Homo sapiens: one gene and its partners. The protein of the gene in region 2 interacts with the protein of the main gene of each other region in a pairwise test. Each region holds a gene or a part of one and is shown on either strand. Other genes may lie near its edges. The genes, in order: ZMAT4, CUL4B and UBXN7.

What was found.
Region 1: the proteins of CUL4B (region 2) and ZMAT4 interact in binary tests that used the Homo sapiens proteins (3 or more experiments, as listed by UniProt).
Region 3: the proteins of CUL4B (region 2) and UBXN7 interact in binary tests that used the Homo sapiens proteins (3 or more experiments, as listed by UniProt).

Annotation. Positions count from the first base shown.
Region 1 is NC_000008.11:40,674,193-40,677,848, reverse strand, and holds part of ZMAT4 (zinc finger matrin-type protein 4), read left to right. Parts: intron 1-2,917; coding exon 2,918-3,145; intron 3,146-3,656.
Region 2 is NC_000023.11:120,529,869-120,533,524, reverse strand, and holds part of CUL4B (cullin-4B), read left to right. Parts: intron 1-930; coding exon 931-1,103; intron 1,104-3,270; coding exon 3,271-3,423; intron 3,424-3,656.
Region 3 is NC_000003.12:196,369,871-196,373,526, forward strand, and holds part of UBXN7 (UBX domain-containing protein 7), read right to left. Parts: intron 2,173-3,656; coding exon 2,026-2,172; intron 1-2,025. UniProt on the Homo sapiens protein: Ubiquitin-binding adapter that links a subset of NEDD8-associated cullin ring ligases (CRLs) to the segregase VCP/p97, to regulate turnover of their ubiquitination substrates.

The DNA of each region.
Region 1 (3,656 bases), on a different chromosome or scaffold from region 2:
TGCAATTAGAATAAAAACAAACTATGAAATCAAAATAGAAATTAACTACATGTCAACTAAAGTGTTTTTTAAAGCATGTTTTTAAACCAAAAGATAATCTTTGCCCCATTCTTCATTCATTTTATTGGAATAATACACTCTGCCAAAGCATGTAAGTGTTAGGGTTCATGTACACACACAGATTTATCATTAAAACCTGGAAACTGCTCTCCTCCCACATAATTTCTATATTTGGTATTGAATCAAAGCTGTAGAAGGGACAGAGCTTCCACAATTTGTTCTGTCCACACCCTATGGGTTAGCTGCAAAGTATGTTAATTTTAAAAGAGATGGTGTGTCTGAATTTTTACCTTGAGGAAACCAGGGACGTTAGAAATTTGCCAAAGGTCACACAGCTCACTGATAGTGGAGTCCCACCCAACCAGAGTTCTGTCTTTGATTCAAGGCTGTTTTTATGCTACTGCCTTTGCCTGCTTTTATAGGCACTAAAGGAATATAAGCTGGGTTGAAATGAGTGAAGACAGTTACAACAGAAGCAAAAAAAAAAAAAAAATCCTTTAAACTTTCAGACTATACACAAGATAGTGGAATTATTCAGAGGGAGAAGCTACATCAAATTACTTTCTTATGTGCAAGATAAGATTATCTTATTTGATGAATATTCTATTGTGCCTCACTCCTACCAGGATATGGTGTAGAAGGTATCAGTTGATAAAATCGACTAAAATGTTTTATAGGGCTTACTTTAAAGAAAAATAAATTATGCTTCAAGAGTCAACATTTATTCATATTGTAGACATTTGATATGTTTTCCATTGCCATCAAAAACAATAGCTAATTATAAATCCTCAGAAATTGATAAGGATTTGGGAAGCTTTGAAAGTGAGATTCAATTACCTTCAGAAAAGTGGATAGAGATCTTTTCACATCCAGGTCAACTGCATATTTGTAGCTTTTATTTCTAAGTCATAGCAGAATGATACTGGGTGGCTGCTGGAATGGCCCACATTTGAGCTTTATTTCTACATGGTGATAACATGACCAAATCCCACAATGAGTCTTTTAAGGGGCGTACTGTTTGTGAGTCCCTGTAAAAATAACACCATTAAGTTTAATCTAAACTAGCTAAAACTTCTCGATATAATGAAATCTCTGGATAAAGAAAAAAGAGCTTCTTAGAAATACTGTTATGATACAGGCATTACTTGAATTAAAATGTCACTTAACAAGTATTTGTTTCTATATAAGTTATTTAATCAAAAAAAAAGTCCACCTAAAAGTTACCTGAAAGCTTGGGGTGTTGGTTAATTGGTTCCTTAACTTGTTATTGAGGTCTCGGACCTCAGCTTTTCCTTGGAACGACAACCCTAATGCTCGTGGTTTTGCCAGCTGCATCCTACATCTCAGAGACCAAGAACACACACAGGATGCTGCTATACTGCTTTAGGACTAATGGCCCATGTGAGAATTTACATACTGATTTCTTCTCCAAAATATTTGGATCGGAATATTTTTTCCAAAATTTAATGAAATCCTATATGAAATAGAAAGATGATGGATCTAGAAAAAAAGTCCCTTAGCTTATTAAGAAGTATGAAAAGGATCCTTGGGAAAGTATTGAAGGGAACATTGGCTTTGGGAATTCCAGATTTCATTTTAGTCCTGTTTTTCCCATCACTAGATATCTCACCTTCAGTAAGCCACTGGCATTTCTGAAATCAATCTCTCATCTGAGAAATGGGATAAAAGGCCAAGTCATAGTCCTTGTAAGGATGGAAGCAACTTGTATGTTGTAATACATAGAAAAGTTATTTTTACTTTCCATTAGTAAGCTCCTTCAAGTTAGGCTCTTTTTTGTTTGTTTGTTTTCTGGACCAGAAATAATCCTAAGCTCACAGTAAAATGTGTTAATTTAATAGGTGGAACAATGCAATCTCAAAATAGTGATACATGTCTATTCTGTTTAGATAAGTACACCTGATCTATAGTATTTTTCTTTTGATTTTTAAAAAAACATTGTTATTTCAGCATCAACGTGAGCAGGTAGAGGTTGAAAACAGCCTATTACAATAAACTGAAGCAGCTGACAATAAAATTAGCATGACTTCCTCAATTAATGCAACCCATGTCACCAAAAGATCAGTTTCTACCACTTAGCCAAATCCTTTATTTATTGGTTAATTACATTTATAGCACACAAACGTCCAATTCATTCATTCGGAATCTTTTAAGTCATGACTGTCCAATGTTTACTTCAAGTATTAGCTTTATTTTGACTGATAGATCACTCCCTTACCTCTAAGAATTTATTTATTTAGTTGCATTTTATCCAATATTTATTTTTAGTGTTATACACACACAAAAATAATTGAAGGCAATTACAATAGGCTTATTGCATTATTAGTGATGCTAGAAAAATTAAGTTATTGCTCAAGTTTTACCTGGCTCATTGAGCTTGTCCCCTGTATTTTACTACATTTTTTTTCTCTAAATGCCAATGTTAGAGCAGAATGCATTTTAAAAGTGAGTGGGAAAGGCCTTCAATAACCGTGTTTTCAAAGCTACTCCAGGCAGCCAAATACTTAGAGCTACTGTCCATAGCTCCTGAGAGCCACAGTGGGAATAACTGAGAATTTATTTTTAAAAATCTTATTATTCCCCTAAGGGATGGTCTCTTGAATTATCAGATTTTGGTATAACGACATGCAAACTCTGATCTCAATACATTAAGAATTTTTATTTGTGTCCCAACTCAAAAATGAAAGCTGGCAGGGCTAATTTTCCTGCTGTCAATGAACTCTTGGGGATGTTTAAGCTCTAGAGTGAACAGGAGACTTTTGGTCTTCGGGTATTGAGGAAGAGTGGACTCAGTGTTGGACTAACGTGGCTGTGGTTCTCTGGTTGTTTCCTTTCACAGCAACACCCCTGAGCCCACTTAAGCCCCCACGGATGGACACTGCTCCGGTGGTCGCATCTCCCTATCAAAGAAGAGATTCAGACAGATACTGTGGGCTCTGTGCAGCCTGGTTTAATAACCCTCTGATGGCCCAGCAACATTATGATGGCAAGAAACACAAAAAGAATGCGGCAAGAGTTGCTTTGTTAGAACAACTGGGGACAACCCTGGATATGGGGGAACTGAGAGGTAAGGGCAGCTCTTCTCACTTCTGCCACAAAACTGGGCTTTCAGAGAAAAGATGCGGCTTTCACAAATCGGAATGATTCTTCTTCTTGCTTTAATTATTAAGGAAAAAGTGAGGCTCACCCAAAAGAAATGGACAAGAAAGGAAATGAGCAGAAGGCTTGCTTTAGTTTAATTTTTATAATCTCCTTTGTTTCAAAGTGTTTATTTTCATATTTTTATTGACTGCTTTTCAGACCAAAGGCACATTCATGAACCAGATTGTTTTCCTTCTGCTTTATCTTTAACTGCCTTCTTTACCAAATGCTTTTGTAGAGTAGCAGTGTTTAAAAAAGAAAAAAAAGATGCTGAATGGGAGGCTGAGGTGGGCAGATTGCCTGAGGTCAGGAGTTCAACACCGGCCTGGCCAATATGGTGAAACCCCGTCTGTATTAAAATACAAAAATTAACCAGGTGTGGCAGTGCGCACCTATAATCCCAGCTACTTGGGAGGCTGAGGCAGGAGAATCGCTTG
Region 2 (3,656 bases):
GTATAGGCCCATGAAGAGCTTAATTGTAGCATAGAATCATGAAGAATCATGAAGAGCTTAATTGTAACATAGAATAGTGAGTTAAAAAATTAGGTAAGATGAGTAGGGCCTGATTGTGGAGAACCTGATAAGTCTAGCAAATGAAACCTACACTGTAGTGTCTCAACTATGTGGCATGGTGGAAGTAATTATTTGGACCACTTACTGAAATCAATCTACAGGGCAACTGGAAGGATCAAGGGATTCCAGTTTAGATGCTATTGGGATGATTCAGGCATAAAGTAGAAGGGACTTAGACTAGAATGAGACCATGAAAATGGAGAAAACTCATCTCTGCGGAAGCAGCGGCTAGCTATTATGTTGAGGATGAAGGAGAAGGAAAAGTTAAAAGATGATTTTAGGGTTTCCCAACTGAGAAGGTTAGTGGTATCACCACTGACAATTGGAAAGAGGACACAGTTATATGGAGATGATGAATCAAATTTTGGACGTAACTACAGTTGATAGTAAAACAGCCAGGCGGAATTGCCCTTTAAACGTGCAACTGGAGAGAAGTGAAATGTCATTTTGGAATATTTGGTAGTTGCCCACATGGTATGATAATTGACGTCTTTAAAAGAGGACTAGGGGCCGGGCGTGGTGGCTCACATCTGTAATCCCAGCACTTTGGGAGGCCAAGGCGGGTGGATCACTTGAGCTCAGGAGTTTGAGACCAGCCTGGGCAACATGGTGAAACCCCGCCTCTATTTTTTTTAAAAAAGAAGAGGACTAGGAAAAAAGCCATTGGCTAGAACAAAGAAAAGTTGTTGGTGACCTTTGGGAAAAAATGAAATAGTTTTAATAGGGGGATGGAGTGGAAGCTAGATTGAGGTAGAATGTCGTAGTTGTTCATGCTGGTAACAAATAACTAAACCTCTGTTTCTTCTTCAGAGGATGGAGAGTTAAGGAGAACACTGCAGTCATTAGCCTGTGGCAAAGCTAGAGTTCTGGCGAAAAATCCAAAGGGCAAAGACATTGAAGATGGTGACAAGTTCATTTGTAATGATGATTTCAAACATAAACTTTTCAGGATAAAGATCAATCAAATCCAGATGAAAGAAACGGTATTTCTTTCACTTTCTCTTAGTCCTAACACACTGGAATTATACATGTTAATAATCAAAATATATAAAGATTTTTATACCTGTAATACTGCCAATACCATTAATATTTTTTGTGTCTATGTCCAGCTAAATATGTTTCCTGATTTGATTTTGGGTGTTTGGGAGAGTGGTTGTACAGGATTGAGATGATACTCAACATAGTTTCATATCTTACTTTGTTTATTTAGTATTCAATCTTTAGAATTTTTCCATGCCATTAAATAGCTTCGAAAAATGGCAGATGGCAGTGTAATATTTTTACATGGCTCTTATAGTTTGTTCAACCACTGTTCATTTTGGGGCAATTAAATTCATGACTTATTAGTATTATAAATAAGATTGCAAGAAACCTCTTTGAAACTAAATTTTAATCTCTGATATATGATAAATTTGTGGAAGTAGATTTTTTTGGGTTAAAGGGTATGAACATTTTAGGAGTCTTAGTACATAATGTCATATTGTGTTCCGGAAAGGCTGGACCAGTTTATACTCTGTCCAGCAGCATATGAGAGCCTGTCTTACTATGTCCCCCAGCACTAAAGATTATATTTTCTTTTGCCAACTTGCTTGGTGAAAAATCTGAATTGATTTATTCACTATTTATTTGATTAACAGTGAAGGTGGGCCAGGTACGGTGGTTCACACCTGTAATCCCAGTACCTTGGGAGGCCGAGGCGGGCAGATCACCTGAGGTCAGGAGTTCAAAACCAGCTTGGCCAACATGGCGATACCCTGTCTCTACTAAAAATACAAAAATCAGCTGGGCGTGGTGGTGCGTGCTTGTAGTCCCAGCTACTTGGGAGGCTGAGGCATGAGAATCACCTGAACCCGGGATGTGGAGGTTGCAGTGAGCTGAGATCGCGCCACTGCACTGCAGCCTGGGTGACAGTGAGACTCTGTTTAAAAAAAAGAAAAAAAAAACAAAAACAGGGAAGGTGAATATTTTGTTTGTTTTTGCCATTTGAATTTGTAAGAGACTTCCAACTGCAGCATCCTGAAACTGATGGTTTCAGTTCCAATAAGGTTTAATGCAATATTTGAAAAAAAAAAAATTTTTTTTTTGAGGTGGAGTCTCACTCTGTCACCCAGGCTGGAGTCAGTGGCACGATCTTGGCTCACTGCAGCCTCCGCCTTCCAGGTTCAAGCGATTATCCTGCCTCAGCCTCCTGAGTAGCTGGGACTACATGCGTGAGCGACCATGCCCGGCTAATTTTTGTATTTTAAGTAGAGATGGGTTTTCACCATATTGACCAGGCAGGTCTTGAACTCCTGACCTCATGATCCGCCCATCTCGGCCTCCCAAAGTGCTGGAATTATAGGTGTGAGCCACTGAGCCCGACTGAAAAAATTTTAATGTAGGACAGCGACCAGTATCTCCAAACAAGTTCCTGTCATTTTCACATACACATCAAAGACAGGATATTTTCTTAAAGGATTACCATGTCCTTACTTTTAAAACATTTATGCTGTACCAGGAAGAAACTGCTGCAAAAAGGCCAAACTGTTTTTTTGGTTTAATTACTAAAGATGAACATTTTTACTTTAGCATCAAGATTGGTAAACCGCCTCCTAAATACCTACATTTCTGTAAGTCTTGAAGGATTGTAAGCACTAATGGCATGCATGTCTGATTTATATATTACAAAATAAAAATTAATTTTCAAAGAGGTTGACTCTTAACTAGTTTGCTTAGCCAGTTAATACCATGCCTTGAGTCAGAGATCAGACAGAGTCACCTTATAGACAAGCTATTGTCATAGAGAAATCTGGTTAACAATCCATTGAAACTGATACACACATTTAGAAGATATATCAAAGACAGAGTAAAAAAACAAAATGGTAAATTCCACATCAGCTATCTCTACTTCTAGAAAAGCAATTCAAAGATGATGTTTTTCTATTAACTAATATTAGCATTACTTCATTGGTATAGGGCAATATAATCAGAACAGAAAGGAGTTATGTTTGTAGGATTTTTCTCTGTCAGCATCTATATTTATAAGACCCCATTTAGATAATTCAGTACCTTTAAAGCAATAACAATGTCATGTCCCTAAAATGCACAATTTATGTAAATAGTCAGGTTTTGCTTCTGGTATAATTCCTAGGTTTAAAACTTTTTTGTTAGGTTGAAGAACAAGCAAGCACTACAGAAAGAGTATTTCAAGACAGACAGTATCAAATTGATGCTGCAATTGTTCGAATTATGAAGATGAGAAAGACACTTAGCCACAATCTCCTTGTTTCAGAAGTGTACAACCAGTTGAAATTTCCAGTAAAGGTAGGTACTTCTGTGTTTTCCTATTGAGCGTGTTATAAATAAAAGAAAGTACATTAGATTTTCAGACACAAATCTTGCAAACATAAAGCGTCATGACCATTTAGAGAGAGAAAAGTTTTAATTTCCCATGTTGATGCATATGATTTCCAAAAAAAAAAACTTTGTTGGCATATGTGGGCAGCAGTGACAAAAGGGAAAAATAACAGAAAAGCCTGGATACCTGAAAGTTTAAC
Region 3 (3,656 bases), on a different chromosome or scaffold from region 2:
GCCTGTAATCCCAGCACTTTAGGAGGCCGAGGCGAGTGGATCACAAGGTCAGGAGATTGAGACCATCCTGGCCAACATGGTGAAACCCCGTCTCTACTAAAATACAAAAATTAGCCGGGCCTGGTGACAGGCGCTTGTAGTCCCAGCTACTCGGGAGACTGAAGCAGGGGAATCGCTTGAACCCGGGAGGCAGAGACTGCAGTGAGCTGAGATCGTGCCACTGCACTCCTGCCCAGCGACAATGCAAGACTTGTCTCAAAAAAAAAAAAAAAAAAAAAAGATTATGGCTCCACATGGTGGCTCGCACCTATAACCCTAGCACTTTGTAGGGCAGAGGCAGAGGACAGCTTGAGGCCAGGAGTTTGAGACCAGCCTGGGCATCTCCACGAGAAGTTTTTTTGTTTTTTTTTGTTTGTTTGTTTGTTTTTAAATTAGCCAGGTTTAATGGTGTGCACCTATAGTCCCAGCAACTCAGGAGACTGAGGTGGGAAGATCCCTTGAGCCTATAGGGGTTAGAGCCTGCAGTGAGCTATGACTGCACCACTGTGTTCCGGCCTGGGTGACAGAGCAAGACCCTGTCCATTTATTTAAAAAAAAAAAGAAAAAAGAAAAGAAAAGAAAGAAAGAAAAAAAGATTATAAGCTCAAGAGTCCAGCACAGTGCTAAGCAAAGAGCTGCTCGATCAATATTTGTTGAATAAAATACAAGGAATTTTACCATTAAAGTTACATTAAATTTAGGGGCCTGTAAAATATAAACAGGCAAATTAATAACATTAATAGCATATCTTACAGTAGGGGAAAAAATTAAGCTCCTTCATAAGTTTTTATTTTCTATAACTTTTCACAAAATAAAAAATAAAAAAATTGAGCCGGCACGGTGATTCATGCCTATAATCCCAGCACTTTGGGAAGCCAAGGGAAGCAGATGGCTTGGGCCCAGGAGTTCGAGACGAGCCTGGGCAATATGGCAGGACCCCATCTCTACAAAAAAAAAAAAAAAAAAAAAATTATATGGGCATAGTGGTGCATGTTTGTGGTCCCAACTACTCAAGAAACTGAGGTGGAAGGATCATTTGAGCCCAGGAGGTCAAGGCTGAGCCATGTTCATGCCACTGCATTGCAGCCTGGGTGACAGAGCAAAACCCTGTCTCACAGTGGGGGAAAAATGATACAAGGTCTGTAACCTTATCTCATTAGCTGGGAAGACTAAAGTGACATGTCTAAGAACACAGAGTTAAAAAGTATCAAACTCAAGCTAAAATCTAAGTCTTAGCCAAATGCTTCCAATTACCTCAAGATCTTCTATACCTGCACTGTCTAATACAGCAACCACTACCCACAAGTGGCTACTGAAGCACCTGAAATCTTGCTACTCCAAATGGAGAAGGGGTGTAAGTATAAAATACAAACCATATCTTGAAGACTCAACACCAAATAAATGCAGATCATCTCATTATTTTTGTATTAGTTATATAGATATATTGATTTAACCAAATACATTATTACAGTTAATTTCATCTATTTTGATTAATCTTTTTTAATGTGGCTACTGGAAAAATTTAAATTATGTGTACAGCTTACAATATATTTCTACTGAACAGTACAGTTTGTTTGTTTTGTTTTGTTTGAGATGGAGTCTAGCTCTATTGTTCAGGCTGGAGTGTAATGGTGTGATCTTGGCTCACTGCAGTCTCCGCTACCCGGGTTCAAGTGATTCTCCTGCCTCAGCCTCCCGAGTAGCTGGGATTACAGGTGCCTGCTGCCACACCTGGCTGATTTTTTGTATTTTTAGGAGAGACAGGGTTTCACCATGTTGGCCAGGCTGGTCTCAAACTCCTGACCTCAGGTGATCCGCCGGCCTCAGCCTCCCAAAGTGCTGGGATTATAGGCGTGAGCTACTGCCCCCAGCCGGCTTTACCTTTTTTTAAATGTCTTAATTCATTATAACCCAATTCCTTTCCCTCAACAACCCACACTACAAAAGTAAAATTCTACAAAACTTCTGATTAACTCTCCTTCTCACCTGCCAGAAAATGAAATGTTCCCGGATAATATTCTTCACAGCTTCGTTGCTCCACACATCGCGGTTGAGGCACTGACATGCAAAGTCTTGAACATTTTGAATGTTTATCATCAGCCACTTATTTTGCATCTGGCCACACTCTTTGGCCTGCAAGAGTAAAGTTACACATTTGTTAGAAATAATTTCTACTTAGTGACAGATGTTTCCGTAGTTGTTCAGAGGTTGTTGTCTTTCATTAAAAATACTAAGTTTTTGCCAGATACGACATCTAGAGTTTTCAGCATTTATACATTCTATATATTTACTTCGCATATGCATTTATAGCTATACTGTCCATTTCAAGCACTGCTCAAATTTAAATGAACTCATTTCTCTTTTATCCAGTTATTTGTTATAATAGCTGATTCTCTCTCTCTCTCTCTCTCTCTCTCCTTTCTTTCTTTCTTTCTTTTTTTTTTTTTTTTGAGACAGAGTCTAACTCTATTGCCCAGGCTAGAGTACAGTGGGGCAGTCTCGGCTCACTGCAACCTCCACCTCCTGAGTTCAAGTGATTCTCCCGCCGCAGCCTCCCAAGTAGTTGGGATTAAAGGCGTGCCCCAACACGCCTGGCTGATTTTTGTATTTTTAGTAGAGATGGGGTATCAACATGTTGGCCAGGCTGGTCTCGAACTTCTGACCTCAAATGACCCGTCCACCTTGGCCTCCCAAAGTGCTGGAATTACAGGTGTGACTCATCATGACCGGTAATGGCTGAATTTTTAATGTATGTTTAAACATCTTTACCTGAAAAGGATTCAACAAACTTAAGATCAACAAGTCACGTAATTTTATTCTCTTGCAACCTCCATCAACAATTTTTTTTTTTTTTGAGACGAGCTTTGCTCTTGTTGCCTAAGTCGGAGAACAATGGCACGATCTCGGCTCACTACAACCTCCACCTACTAGGTTCAAGTGATTCTTCTGCCTTAGCCTACCGAGTAGCTGGGATTACAGGTGTGTGCCACCATGCCTGACTAATTTTTTATATATTTTTAGTAAAGAGACGGGGTTTCACCATGTTGGCCAGGCTGGTCTCAAACTCCTGACCTCAGGTGACGCACCCATCTCAGCCTCCCAAAGTGCTGGGATTATAGGCGTGAGCCACCGCGCCCAGCCAATTATACTTCTTTTTAATGAATGCAATTGGTGTGTATATTTTACTTTGTTTTCTTCAACATCATTTCTGGAACATTTTTAAACATCATATTAATCTCAGTTATTAGGCATATATGCTGTTTTGGAGAATCACCCTAAACATTTTAGTAAAAACTGCTGAGAGTTTTTTCTCTTAAGAGTTGTCTTCCTAGGAGTAGATTCCAAAAATTGGGATTACAAGGTCAAAGAATGTTTGAGAATGATCCCCAAACAACTCTACGATTCGTACAACAGATATCGATACATCAATCGTTAGTGCGTACTTTTTGCCTGTCAGTCCCTTGTCAGCATAAAGACCCATGAAATGCTGCTGAGTGGAAAACAATGGCAGAAAAGCAAATAAGCAAATGCTGCCTCAAATCTTTGCCTAGGAAAGAACAGTGACACGAAACCACAGTTTTGGAATAAATTTATCCTAGAACAGTATTCTTTTCCAA